4 linked regions of the Homo sapiens genome follow. The protein of the gene in region 2 purifies or fractionates together with the protein of the main gene of each other region. This does not show direct contact. Each region holds a gene or a part of one and is shown on either strand. Other genes may lie near its edges.

Evidence for each region. The genes of interacting proteins can lie anywhere in the genome.
Region 1: the proteins of ARIH1 (region 2) and KCTD3 purify together in Homo sapiens (affinity purification with mass spectrometry; 3 studies listed by BioGRID and IntAct, with this or other methods). This does not show direct contact.
Region 3: the proteins of ARIH1 (region 2) and PIP5K1A purify together in Homo sapiens (affinity purification with mass spectrometry; 3 studies listed by BioGRID and IntAct, with this or other methods). This does not show direct contact.
Region 4: the proteins of ARIH1 (region 2) and FBXW11 purify together in Homo sapiens (affinity purification with mass spectrometry; 8 studies listed by BioGRID and IntAct, with this or other methods). This does not show direct contact.

Annotation. Positions count from the first base shown.
Region 1 is NC_000001.11:215,601,804-215,605,303, forward strand, and holds part of KCTD3 (BTB/POZ domain-containing protein KCTD3), read left to right. Parts: intron 1-63; coding exon 64-151; intron 152-281; coding exon 282-398; intron 399-2,328; coding exon 2,329-2,499; intron 2,500-3,500. UniProt on the Homo sapiens protein: Accessory subunit of potassium/sodium hyperpolarization-activated cyclic nucleotide-gated channel 3 (HCN3) up-regulating its cell-surface expression and current density without affecting its voltage dependence and kinetics.
Region 2 is NC_000015.10:72,480,830-72,484,329, forward strand, and holds part of ARIH1 (E3 ubiquitin-protein ligase ARIH1), read left to right. Parts: intron 1-3,500. UniProt on the Homo sapiens protein: E3 ubiquitin-protein ligase, which catalyzes ubiquitination of target proteins together with ubiquitin-conjugating enzyme E2 UBE2L3.
Region 3 is NC_000001.11:151,229,552-151,233,051, forward strand, and holds part of PIP5K1A (phosphatidylinositol 4-phosphate 5-kinase type-1 alpha), read left to right. Parts: intron 1-2,119; coding exon 2,120-2,250; intron 2,251-2,696; coding exon 2,697-2,814; intron 2,815-2,999; coding exon 3,000-3,152; intron 3,153-3,500. UniProt on the Homo sapiens protein: Catalyzes the phosphorylation of phosphatidylinositol 4-phosphate (PtdIns(4)P/PI4P) to form phosphatidylinositol 4,5-bisphosphate (PtdIns(4,5)P2/PIP2), a lipid second messenger that regulates several cellular processes such as signal transduction, vesicle trafficking, actin cytoskeleton dynamics, cell adhesion, and cell motility.
Region 4 is NC_000005.10:171,902,139-171,905,638, forward strand, and holds part of FBXW11 (F-box/WD repeat-containing protein 11), read right to left. Parts: intron 1-3,500.

The DNA of each region.
Region 1 (3,500 bases), on a different chromosome or scaffold from region 2:
ATTGACCAGAAAATAGAAATTATAATTACTATCTAACATCTGATAATACTCTCACTACATCAGGTTCAAGATGTTGTTCCTATAACTAGTTATGACACTGCTGGATCATTCCTTCTGCTTGGATGTAACAATGGATCAATATATTACATAGGTAAGTGTTCAGTCACTTAAAATGCTCCTGCTTAATGTAATTTTTTAAATGAGAACAAGAAAACATTACCTTTCAGTTTTAAATAGATATGCTATTTATTTTAATGCTGTTTAAAATTTTTATGTTTTAGATATGCAGAAGTTCCCCTTGCGAATGAAAGATAATGATCTTCTTGTAACTGAACTGTATCATGATCCTTCAAATGATGCTATTACTGCTCTGAGTGTTTACCTCACACCCAAAACAAGTTAGTACATGGCCAATTATATACATTCTTGACTTTTTATCTTTTTATTCATTAGTTTATTATGTGACTAGGTCAAATTAAACTGGTTTATTTCTTTTTGAGAACTGCAGTGCCTAAGGATTTCATCTCTACTAAGTCTAAAATTTGTATTCAGTTTTATACTGAAGTCAAACATGACCAGTAAACAAACATAATTTGAGGTGGAAAATTGGAACTCCCCTTACGCTGAATTGCATTTGTTGAGCCATATTATTATAATGTTAGCTGAAATTTCAAAAAAAAAAAAAATTCTGCACATTTGTCTTCCTATTAAAATAACTAATTTTTCACTTAAAAATTAGGAGCTTTTTAAAAAATAAAAAGTTCTTAGACTACTGCTGGAAACTAAGCTTATTTTCTTGGGAATTTAAAAATTTAAGCTGTAGAAAAAAGGCATTTTATAACTTTCAGTGCATTTTAGAGGCCATTGCAATAAAAGTAACAGACTAGTTCTGTAAAGTAGTAAGAATTTTTGTATTCTGGAGTAAAAGATAAGCACAAATGGGAAATTTAAAATTTATCTGTAATGAAAGGAGTTCTAAGAAACAATTTGTATTCAGTAATACTAATAGGTTTGGATGTGCTACTTATATAAGTCATCATTTCATTTAAGTTATTAAAAGAAACCATAATTTTTAGTATGAAAGAAATATTCAAGAGTATACCTATGAATTTGACTGAAACCATAGTAGGACTTAAATTGTATTGCTCTAGAAATAGGGTTTAGTAAACCACGGATTTCTAGCCAAGCTGGCTCTTTTTGATACCACTGTCTTTGGATGTTTTTATGCCACAATGACAGAATTGAGAGGTTGTGACAGAGACAGTGTGGCATGCAGAGTTTAAAATGTTTACTACTTGGCCCCTTACGGAAAGTGTACCAACCCCTGCTCTAGAATGAGCTGTGGATTTTTTTTTTAAATCTAGTTAAAAGGCAGGCATAAAACTGGGAAAGTTTTACAAATCAAAGCACTTCTTTTGTAGTGGCAGGGGGATTTTAAGGCATGAAAAATGGAGTCATCTTTCTGGTTCTAGGAGGTGTTTTTCATGACATGCTTTTTTTCCTTTGATTCAAGTATTTTCAGATGAATCAGTTAGTAAAACTAGAACAGCCAGTAAAGCTAAGATGTTCTCTATCCATGAAGCTTTTAAGAGTATAGGTCACTGAATTTTTTCCTATCTAAATTTGCAATGGGGTCTGGGCACTTTTTGAAAAAAAGAAAACAAAAGACACAGCTGAACCTTAGATGATTAGAAGAAACAACATATTTTAAGTATGATGTAAGCAATGTAATGGGTATGTTTATTCCCTAGCACAGTGTTTTGAAACTTAAATAGTATATTTAATGCTTGATTATTTGAGAATGATTTAGTATTGTAGTTTAAGTAAAGCAGATGGTAATTCTAGGCTAGACATAATAAGGAATATTGCTTTTGGAATACTATGCTGTTTCAGTAGTGTTCTTGGCATGGCAGATTTATGAATTCTTTAAACTATGTTGAGTACCTGCGGTGTCTCAGGCACTCTGTGAGGTGACAGATAAAAAGATGATTATGATTCAGTCTTTGTCAATAAGGAATAGAAGTAGCTAGACATAGAAATAAGTACAGAATTAGTGTGTTATAATTACTGTGATAGAACCTAATAGTGCAAGGCAGGAGGTGAATAGTTACGTCTTGGAGTGAGGGTTAGGAAAAGATTTATCAAGGAAATAATGATTTTAAGATGACCGGAGAAGTCTTAAGATTTTTTTTTTTACTGAACTGGATTTGGGGCTGATATAAACAGTGAATCCAGCTCTGCCTATTTTATCATAGGGAAGCTTTGCGAGGGTAGCTTTTTTATTATCGTTCCATAATGTATCACCTGTCAACTCTTGACTTTATATAGGTGTCAGTGGTAACTGGATCGAGATCGCCTATGGTACGAGCTCTGGAGCAGTACGAGTGATTGTACAACACCCAGAGACAGTTGGGTCAGGTCCTCAGCTTTTTCAGACTTTCACAGTTCACCGAAGTCCCGTAACAAAAATCATGCTATCAGAGAAGCATCTTGTATCAGGTAAAATGATTTCATTATACTGGTAAGGAACTTGGCTCTGTGTGTTATTTTCATTAAAAGAATGAAAACGCAGTGTTTATGTGAGAAAAATATACTAAAAGAAGTACTAGAAAAGTTTAATGACTGAAGAAATTATGATTGTCTTTTAAAGATTTCTTTGAGCTGGTCGTGGTGGCTCATGCCTATAAATCCTAGCAGTTTAGGAGGCCAAGGCAGGTGGATTGGTTTAGCCCAGGAGTTGAAGACTAGCCTGGGCAACATGGTGAAACCCCACCTCTACCAAAAAAGAGGAAAACAAAAAAAAGATGTTTTTTATTTTACCTGGTTTTAATATACTTAAATTTAGGAGATGTGATTTTTTTTTTTTTTTTTGCTCTCTTGGCATATCTTATTGCAAAATATTTATTATGACCCTGCTAAGAGGAATTTTTATTAAATTTTTCAAGTTTTACTTTTAATATAAATTGGGTTGATTATATTATGGTTTAATGCTAAAACTGTAGATTTAAATGTGTATTTTGATATTTTGTCATCTCAAAAATAATAAAAATTACAATTGTAGAGATTATTTGAAGAAAATAAGCTTTTCTTGGGTTTGTAGTTCTTCATAATATAAAATTTTTAATTAAATATTAATTGGATACATAAAAAATTAAATACTAATTTTCAAGTTTAACGAATAGTACTTTCTGATTACAAAGTAAAATTCTATTGAAGAAATTCATTGTGTATGGAAGATGATTTCTAAAAGGCTTTGTGAAAATTGCATTGTGAGTTGGGTGTGTCAGTAAAGCTTGCTTTCTAGAGGAGTCTTACATTAACTCCTTTTGTAGAGCAGTTCTTGCCCAACTTAAAATTTTTACAAACATGGTTTTCATGTGTCAGATTTGTTTTTGTGAAGGCTGGCTAGAAGATAATGCATCTTTTGTGAAAGATGTAGTGAAAGTTTCTCAATCTAATTAAACACCATGTGGAGCTGAAATTCAGTCCATAGCTGAATG
Region 2 (3,500 bases):
TCTGGGATCACAGTGAGCCACCTTGCCCGGCCTTGTTTTGTTTTTAATCTGGGACTGAAAATGAGGGAGTTGAAATACTAGGTTGGTCCTTTTTTACATTAAGTGTTTTATTCGTTTAACATCATTTTAAAAACCTCAGTTAATTGGAGATGTTCATTTTTTCCAAGAAATTGAATTCAGGTGTGCATATTGTGGTTATGTTCATTAATTGGGAGAGGAGGAAGAGGGTGTACAAGCCTGTGCATGATGTGTGCAGGCACATGTGTTTTGAAGTTATTAAAGTGTTTGATATAGTTTAGATTTATTTCTTTTGGACTTTTATATTTTCCCAGCTGATCTCCTTGAGCTGTAAGTTTAAATTACACTGACTTGTTGAATTGCTATGGCAGTAGTCCTATGAATCAAACTCTGGGGATGGGGTCTGGCTGTCTGTTTTAACAAGCCTTCTAGGTGATGGTGATGCAAGCTAAAGTTTGAGAACTGCTGATGTAGTTGAAATTTAATAGCAGTGTTTCTCTATGTGTTACGTGTAGTGATAGATTACTACAGAGGTGGGTTAATGAGGGAAGATAAATTGTTTAAGAAACTAATAATAGGGGACCAGTCACGGTGGCTCACACCTGTAATCCCAGCACTTTGGGGACTGTGCCAGGCAGATCACTTGAGGTCAGGAGTTTGAGACCAGCCTGGCCAATATGGTGAAACACTAGCTGGGCGTGGTGGCCTGTGCCTGTAATCCCAGCTACTTGGGAGACTTGAGGCAGGAGAATTGCTTGAACCTGGGAATTGGAGGTTGCAGTGAGCTGAGATAGTGTCACTGCACTCTAGCCTGGGTGACAGAGGGAGACTCTACTTCAAAAAAAAGGTAATAATGGGAAAATTTCCAGAACCTAGGCAACGTTTACTAGGCTAATCATAGGGTTGGAAGATGTTTGTCATCGTAGATGCTATCCTTCATGCTATGCTATCCTTCAGCTAAGGTGGTCTTTACTCAGTATTTTCTTTTCTTTTCTTTTCTTTTTTGGAGACAGAGTCTTTTCTCTCTTGCCCAGGCTGGGGTGCAGTGGCGCCATCTCGGCTCACTGCAACCTTCGCCTGCTGGGTTCAAGCGATTCTCCTCCTTCAGCCTCCCGAGTAGCTGGGATTACAGGCGCCCACCACTACGCCCGGCTAATTTTGTATTTTTGGTAGAGACGGGGTTTCACCATGTTGGCCAGGCTGATCTCGAACTCCTGACCTCAGGTGATCCACCCGACTTGGCCTCCCAAAGTGCTGGGATTACAGGCATGAGCCACTGCACCCGGCCAGTATTTTCAAATAGACAAACTAAACTAGTGACATCTGACATTCTAGATTGGAGTTCTTGATTTCCCTTCCAGTCCTAGATTTTTTTAATATAGAATGTTGAGTTTTCTAATTTATTAGTATGCTGGAAGAGATATAAAGTCCTGGATAGATATAAAGTCCTGTTTAAAGGAATATGAGAAGACTTATTCTTAAGGAGTTGAGAATCTCTTAGAGTTAAAGCTGTTAGGTTAGTGAGTAATTTAAATAAGTGGATAGTAATAGATACTCATGGAAGAGACCTCTGTAGGTGTTGTCAAAGATGGCTAGGATTTGGGTGGATAAAAAAGAGGAAGTCATTCTAAGGAACTGAATGAGGTGAGAATGAGGAGAGTTTTTGGGTAATGGTGAAATCAGCTAAAGTAGAATGGAGCTTATAAATGCTGGATAATAATGTAGAACCTGGGAGATTAAATACTGTGATGAAAGGTAAGCAGAAGTCATCACATTAGATTCTTTTGGGGTTGACCTGTGGTAACTATGTAGATTGGTTATCTTTTGCCTTATGTTACCCCAAAACTTAGTGGCTTAAAAAAACAAGGATCTGTTATATCATAGTTTCTGTGAGTCACAATTCTGGATGCAGCTTACCTGGGGGCCTCTGGCTTATGGTCTCTTACAAGGCTGCAACCAAGGTGACGGCTTGGTAGCAGTTCTCTCTCTCTCTTTTTTTTTTTTTTTTTTAAAGACAGAGGCTTGCTGTGGTGCCCAGGCTGGAGTGCAATGGCATAATCTCGGCTCATTGCAACCCTCACCTCTTGAGTCCAAGTGATCCTCTTACCTCAGCCTCCTGAGTAGTTGGGACTATAGATGTGCACCACCACACCCCAGCTTATTTTTTTGTTTTTGTGGGTTTTTTGGTAGAGACCAGTATTTTTTTGTTTTGCCATGTTGCCTAGGCTGCTCTTGAACACCTTAATTCAAGGGATCTGCCCGCCTTAGCCTCCTAAAGTGCTGGGATTACAGGCATGAGCCACCGTGTCTGGCCTGGGTAGCAGTCCTCAAGGCTTGACTGGGGAAGCTTCCCCTTCCGAGCTCACTCATTTGGCTGTGACCAGGCCAGATTTTCACTGGCTGGTTGTTGCCCAGAGATATCAGTTCCTTGCCATGTGGGCCTCTCCATAAAGTGGCTGACAACACAGTAGCTTGTTTCCTCCAGAGTGAGGGATCTTAGAGAAAAGGCCCATACGATGGAAGCCACAAAGTTTTTATAACTTAATTTCAGAAGTAACGTCGCATCACTTTGCAATATTCTATTTGTTGTAAGTGAATAACCAAATCCAGCCCATACTCAATCGGAGGGGATTATACAAAGATGTGAAGACCAGGAGGCAGGGGTCTTTGGGGGCTATCTTAGAGGCCGGCTGTTTGTCTCTGTCTCTCTCTGTTAAGAGGTAAATTACAGCTATTGTATAATGCCTTTCTATCCAATCTTTTTGTATGCTATTGGGAGAACATAGTGTTTTGGATTTTTTATTTTGGATTAACCGTAAATTAATTACTTTTGGCTTTGCAAAACATTATACCTGTAAATGATAAACATTCCTAATAACCTTTCAGTGGCTTAAGTTTAAAATAGCTTGTAGTCTCAGAATTGGTAGGAATTTGAGATTCTCCAGTTTACTGATTTTTTTTTTTTTTAACTCTAGCTACGTAATGGAATCACCTGGGGATTTTTTTCATTACTGTTTTTAAAATAGAAAATTGTAGATTCACAGCCGGGCATGGTGGCTCACGCCTGTAATCCCAGCACTTTGGGAGGCCGAGGCAGGCGGATCACCTGAAGTCAGGAGTTCGAGACCAGCCTGGCCAAATGGCGAAACCCCGTCTCTACTAAAAAAATACAAAAATTAGCCGGGCATGGTGGTGGGCGCCTGTAATCCCAGCTACTCGGGAGGCTGAGGCAGGAGAATCACTTGAACCCAGGAGACAGAGGTTGCAGTGAGCCAAGATTATGCCATTGCACTCCAGCCTGGGCAACAAGAGTGAAACTCCATCAAAAAAAAAAAAAAAAAAGAAGAAAAGAAAAGAAAATTGTAGATTCACATGCAGTTACAAGAAATAATGCAAAAATCCCACATATTCTTTTTTCCAAAAAATTTTATTTCCCTAGGTTATTGGGGAAGAGGTGGTATTTGGTTACATAAGTAAATTCT
Region 3 (3,500 bases), on a different chromosome or scaffold from region 2:
GGTTTCTCCATGTTGGTCAGGCTGGTCTTGAACTCCTGACCTCAGGTAATCTGCCTGTCTCGGCCTCCCAAAGTGCTGGGATTACAGGCATGAGCCACAGCACCCGGCCATTTAGCTCTTTTTATATGTTGAACATTAAGATAAAAAGATGAGTTTCTATTATAACTGGGGAGGCAGGTACTTAAAAAAAAAAAGAAACTAATAATTTATTTTCCTTTGACCTATTTGTACATGAAAAAAACTAGTTGTAGGCTGGGCATGGTGGCTCATGCCTGTAATCCCAGCACTTTGGGAGGCCGAGGCAGGTGGATAACGAGGTCAGGAGATCGAGATCATCCTGGCTAACACGGTGAAACCCCATCTCTACTAAAAAAAAAATACAAAAAATTAGTCGGGTGTGGTGGCTTGCGCCTGTAGTCCCAGCTACTCAGGAGGCTGAGGCAGGAGAATGGTGTCAACCAGGGAGGCGGAGCTTGCAGTGAGCCAAGATCACGCCACTGCACTCCAGCCTGGGCGACAGAGCGAGACTCCGTCTCAAGAAAAAAAAAACAAAAAACTAGTTGTAATTTATTGCCCATTGAGGACCAAGTAGAAATATAAGTAATGCCTGGCCGAGGTTGGGGATGAGGCAAATGGAGCAAAGCTATCTAATCAAAGTTTCTGCAGTGATTGAAATGTGCTGTATCTGTGCTATCCAATATGGTAGCTAGTAGCCACACTTGAACTGTAAGTAGTAAGACTGAGAAAATGAAGTTTTAAATTTGAGTTAACTTAAATTTAAATAGCCATGTGTACCTAGTGGCTACTGTTATCAGACAGCAAAGATCTAGATGATGCGATACTTTCCCACGGGCTTGGAATCCTGGATTGTAAGAGTGGGGCTCTTGTATTTGTGTTTTGACCAAGTTTGATAATTCTAAGTCTGAATACTGCTCTCAGAAATAATTTGAGTCTTTCATGCTTTCTTCTTCAGTTAGGAGCTCTTTTACCACACTGTTGCCCTTTTTTTTGAGACAGTCTGGCTGTGTTACCCAGGCTGGAATGCAGTGGTGTGATCTTGGCTCACTGCAGCCTCCGCCTCCCAGCTTCAAGCAATTCTCCTGTCTCAGCCTTCTGAGTAGCTGGGACTACAGGTGCACACCACCTCATCCAGCTAATTTTTGTGTTTTTAGTAGAGACGGTTTCACCACATTGGCCAGGCTGGTCTCGAACTCTTGGCCTAAAGTGGTCTGCCCACCTCAGTCTCCCAAAGTGCTTGGATTAGAGGCGTGAGCCTCCGCCCGCGCCCACCCCACCCTGTTGGCCTTGAGACACACTAGTCAGGCCCTTCCTTAGAGGACTGAAGTTTCTGCCGCCAGGCAGTCAGATCAGAATATTGGTTAATTTTAGGGCTGGGCATGGTGGCTCATGCCCGTAATCCCAGAGCTTTGGGAGTTCTGAGGTTAGGAGCTTGAGACCAGCCTGACCAACATAGTGAAACCCCATCTGTACTAAAAATATAAAGAATAAGCAAGGTGTCGTGGTGCATGCCTGTAATCTCAGCTACTCGGGAGGCTGAGGCATGAGAATCGCTTGAACCGGGGAGGCAAAGTTTGCAGTGAGCCGAGATCATGCTGCTGTACTCCATTCCAGCCTGGGTGACAGAGTGAGACTTAGTCTCAAAAAAAAAAAAAAAAAAAAGGAATATTGGTTAATTTTAGTTACATTCGATATCAGATGAAGGAAATGTTTAGAGGGCTCCAGATACACTCTGGGGGCAGAAACCTTAGGAGTGAGAACTAAGAACGTTGTGTCAATACAATGTATCTTCCAAATACAAATATGGAACTCTTGTTTAGGCAGGCCAACAGGAGGGAGCACCTTGCCTAGCTGAGGCTGGCTCAGAGAGTCCCAGCTTTGCTACTCTGTATCCTCACTGTCCTTCCAATCTTTACTAAGCTTAATTGCAGAGTACAGCATAGGGATGGGGAAACTGGATTGTCCCAGTTTTATCTGAACTATTGCTCAGACTAAAGGATGTTTGTTTTAAAGTGTTCCTTCTAGCTTCCCCTTTCTGAATTTTTATTGTTATGATCCTACTTATACTAGGAATTTTCTTCTCATTTCTCTTGTTTCTCAGACAACCTCATCAGCCTTGAAAGGTGCCATCCAGTTAGGCATTACCCACACTGTGGGGAGCCTGAGTACCAAACCAGAGCGTGATGTCCTCATGCAAGATTTCTACGTGGTTGAGAGTATCTTCTTTCCCAGGTACAGAGTTTAATGTTCAGGAGCATGTCCTGGAAATGTGGCCTTTTCAAATCAGCCCAGGGCAGTTTTAGGGGTTCAGGTCGGACAATTTAGACATGTGTCCATTTCTTAACCTGGTTACAATCAGGGCGATGTGGGACTAGAGAGTTCGGAGAGCAGATACTGTCCTCTAGATGCTTCCATTAGCCTCTGTCCTATGGATTGACCCGTAAAAAACAACCTAATGCATTGGATAGGAGGCAGTGTGATTTCTTCTTCTTCTTATGTCTTGCTGTCCATGCTGTGCCATTGTCTCACTAACTCATCTAAGAAGGGCTGTGATTATCTTAGGAGGAATGTATTCCCCCACTCCCCCCACCATGAGGTGACTCTGAGTGTCTTCGCAAGGTAGATTCTCTGGATGATAGGGACTGGCAAGTTATGGCTACCTCTGTTTAACCCCACAGTGAAGGGAGCAACCTGACCCCTGCTCATCACTACAATGACTTTCGTTTCAAGACCTATGCACCTGTTGCCTTCCGCTACTTCCGGGAGCTATTTGGTATCCGGCCCGATGATTACTTGGTAAGCATCTGGATATCAGGACACTGTGACTCCAGTATCAGAGGGATATTCCCAAAGGAAGGCCCCTTTTCTCCACAGTCTCGCTCTGGTTTTTATTTAGAAAAGAATTGCATCTGTAGTTGATTTTTGTGTTGGGCAAGGCCCTGATGTGTCTAAATCTCTTAGTTCTTCTCTGTTTGCCCCAGTATTCCCTCTGCAGTGAGCCGCTGATTGAACTCTGTAGCTCTGGAGCTAGTGGTTCCCTATTCTATGTGTCCAGCGACGATGAGTTCATTATTAAGACAGTCCAACATAAAGAGGCGGAATTTCTGCAGAAGCTGCTTCCAGGATACTACATGGTAAGGGAGAGAGAAGCACTGTCCACCTGTGCTGCTCACTTCTGGGCAAGGCTGGGGAGGCTGTCTTCAGCAGGGTAAAACAGTGTCAGCACTTCTATCTTAAGAGTGTAGTTCAGGCCAGGCACGGTGGCTCATGCCTGTAATCCCAGGACTTTGGGAGGCCGAGGCAAGAGGATCACAAGATCAGGAGATCAAGACCATCCTGGCCAACATGGTGAAACCTCGTCTTTACTAAAAATACAAAAAATTAGCCAGGCGTGGTAGCGGGCGCCTGTAGTCCCAGCTACTCAGGAGGCTGAGACAGGAGAATGGCGTGAATCTGGGAGGCGAAGTTTGCAGTGAGCCGAG
Region 4 (3,500 bases), on a different chromosome or scaffold from region 2:
CTCGGAGGTATTTGGAAAAATCAGCAGATGATGATATTACCATCTATTTACATCATTCTTCAGACCTACCTACTAGCCTGGTAACTTTATCCAAAAAGGAAATAAGGTGAGGAGGGTATGGCTGCTTTCATGTTCCCGTGCTGGGGTTTACTACATAAAGTTGTATTGCAATTTTTCACTTACATGTTGACACTAGCTGCTTGGTAACCCTTTTAAACATATCTAGTTCATGTTCATTATAGAAAATTTATAAAGTGTAGATGAGCAAAAATTTTTAAATCCCTAAACCCCATTTCCCAGAGAAGGGAACCACTTTTCACATTCTGTATACATCCTTCTAGGTTTACACAACCATACACAATCTTTTCAGAGGCTGATTAGCCTTTGAAACTCATCTAAGAATTCTGCTAAAGCACAACATCAAATTTAATAGCTAAATCCCCCAAAAACACCTTCTCCAGTTCTTAAAACCAGGAAGTCTGCTCATCAATCATCTCTGGTGCTATCATGCAAGACTACCATGTGCAACTGTACAAGCTGTACAGGGCACAATTGTACCCAATAGTTCTGCATACTGATTTTCAATTGCTTCACAATGTTCTACAATTTGAAAAATCACAACCACAGGTTTTGCCACTATCCAGGCATACAATGTATTTAGGCCTACTTGTCTATAGGAGCTATGTGATTGCTAAATATCTTCACATCTTTCTCAAACACAACTTTGCTAACCTTTGTTTTAAAGCCATTATTCTTGGGTTGGGGGGATGGTGGGATTAGGTTAATGGGAGTGAAAATATGTTGTTTCTTTCTATTATCACTATACTATCTATTCTAAGCACACTATCCCTTCATCCTTTATAATCTGGCTCCAAATAGTTAATTATTTTGTTTTCAACTCTTTCAATTTACTTCAACATTTTGGACAATTTAACATTATTTGGAGTTTGGTCTTCTTGGTACCATTCTCAAAGGTTTCACAGGGACTCACTCTATCACCCAAGTTGGAGTACAGTGGCACAATCATGGCTCACTGCCACCTCAAACTCCTGGGTTCAAGCAATCCTCCCACCTCAACCTCCCAAGTAACTAGGACTACAGGCACATGCCTCCACACCCAGCTAATTTTTTTTTATCATTTGTAGAGATGAGGTCTCACTATATTGCCCGGGGTGGTCTCCAACTCCTGGGCTCAAGCAATCCTCCTGCCTTGGTCTTGAAAGTGCTGGGATTACAGGCGTGAGCCACTGCGCCTGGCTGCCTTTCTTCCATCTTCTATGTTTACTTAAAATCAGGGAAATCCAAGGATAATCACGTGGGGTTCTGCTTGTGCCTCTCCATCACTAGGATTGACAAATTATTCATCAGAATTTCAAACTGCAGAATCCGTCAGCCTTCTTTTATCACATTTTTGTTCAGTCTCTAGCCGTGGACTAACAGACTTAGCTCTTTCAATCTTTCTAACGCTGGGGTACTTATCTATCTTCCTTTTCTGATTTCTACACTTAATATTAGAACATAGCTAATTACAGCATCTCACTCTGTTGCCCAGGCTGGAGTACAGTGACATGATCATGGCTCACTACAGCCTTGACCTTCCAGAATCAAGTGATCCTCCTGCCTCAGCCTCCCTAGTAGCTGAGACTACAAGTATGCACTACCATGCCAGGCTAATTTTTTTTAAAAAAAATTTTAGTAGAGACAGGATCTCACTATGTTGCCCAGGCTGAGAACATAGCCACTTTTAAAGTAATGTAAACTTCACATCATTAACCCAAATCCTCCTAACTGGTTATAAACACATCTCAAACTAATTCCTCTCTAGAACCCTCTGCTCTCTGAAAGGTGAAACAAATGGCAAGACAAGGATGCATTAGGGGCTGCATGGTGGCTCACACCTGTAATCCTAGAACTTTGGGAGGCCAAGATGGGCAGATCGCTTGAGTCCAGGAGTTTGAGACCAGCCTGGACAGCATGGCAAAACTCCATCTCTACTAAATATACAAAAATTAGCCATGGTGGCACACGCCTGTAATCCCAGCTACTTGGCAGGATGAGGCGCGCGAGAACCACTTGAACCTAGGAGGTGGCGGTTGCAGTAAGTGGAGATCATGCCACTGCACTCTAGCCTGGGTTACAGTGCAAGACTCTGTCTTTTTTTAAAAAAAATAAAAAATAAAAAGAATGCATTAGATACTCGCCTTTTCAAACCTCAAAGGCTGCAACATCCCCATCATCTGTGACGGGAAAGCAGCACCCAAACCTTCAACCTATCTGGGTGGTCTATAAGCCTGTGTGGTTGTATCTGACTCAACTCAGGGTTACTGATTTTCAAAACAACAGCAAAAAGAAAAGATCCCCCCAATCTTCTCCTGACCTACAAAATCAGAATCTCTAGACGGTAAGGCCCAGGAATCTGGGTGTGGTTTTTTTGTTGTTGTTGTTGTTTTTGGAAACAGATTCTCACTCTGTCGCCAGTATGGAGTGCAGTGGTGGGATCTCAGCTCACTGCAACCTCCACCTCCTGGGTTCAAGCGATTCTCCTGCCTCAGCCTCCCGAGTAGCTGGGACTACAGGCGCACACCACCATGCCCAGGTAATTTTTGTATTTTTAGTACAGATGGGGTTTCACCATGTTGGCCAGGATGGTCTTGATCTCTTGACCTCATGATCCACCCAACTCGGCCTCCCAAAGTGCTGGGATTACAGGTGTGAGCCACCGTGCCCAGCCAGGAATCTGTATTTTTAAGAAGTGCCACTAGATAATGCTGAAGTATTAGGAACTATTGGTTTATAGCAATGATATCCCTTTTAGTCCTCTTTGATTCCCCCATCAATTGCTCACAACTAGGCTATCATGAGTTTTTACAGAAATAAATCCCTTACTAATACTTATTTCTTCCTCTTTCAAATGCCATCAGTCCAATTAAGCAACATCTCAGTGATATCTATGAGATTTGACCTATTTCCTTTGTCTGATACTTTAAATGCATTTCCTCCTTCTATGAGGCAGCATGTTTTAGTCTTGTGAAAAACACACTGCCTGAAAGTCAGAAAAACTAGGTTGCATCTCAGTTCTGTCAACTGCTAGTTGTGTGACCTTAAGCAGATCAGTTTTCCTTTTAGGATCTCAGTCTTCCATAATATCAGAATGATATTAAATGTCTGAAATAAATTACATCATATAATCTTCACAATAACCTTCTGAGATAGGTACTCTACATACCCTCATTTTACATAGAGGGAACCTCCCAGTCTTGCTGCGAAAGTTTAAAAAACAGCATACGTAAAGAGCTAGGTAAATAAGAAGTTCACTCAAGAAATATCAGTCTTTGTTCTACTCTCCCCCAAATCCTCTCAGCAGATATCAATGGACAAGGCCGATACACAATATTCTTCTTGTTACCTTCTGCAGAAAAAATACTACGCATCTCCTCCAGCAAAAAGCTAACCCCCCCCCCTTTATTTTCTTGGTATAAGTCTCATGGCCCCTTAAATGT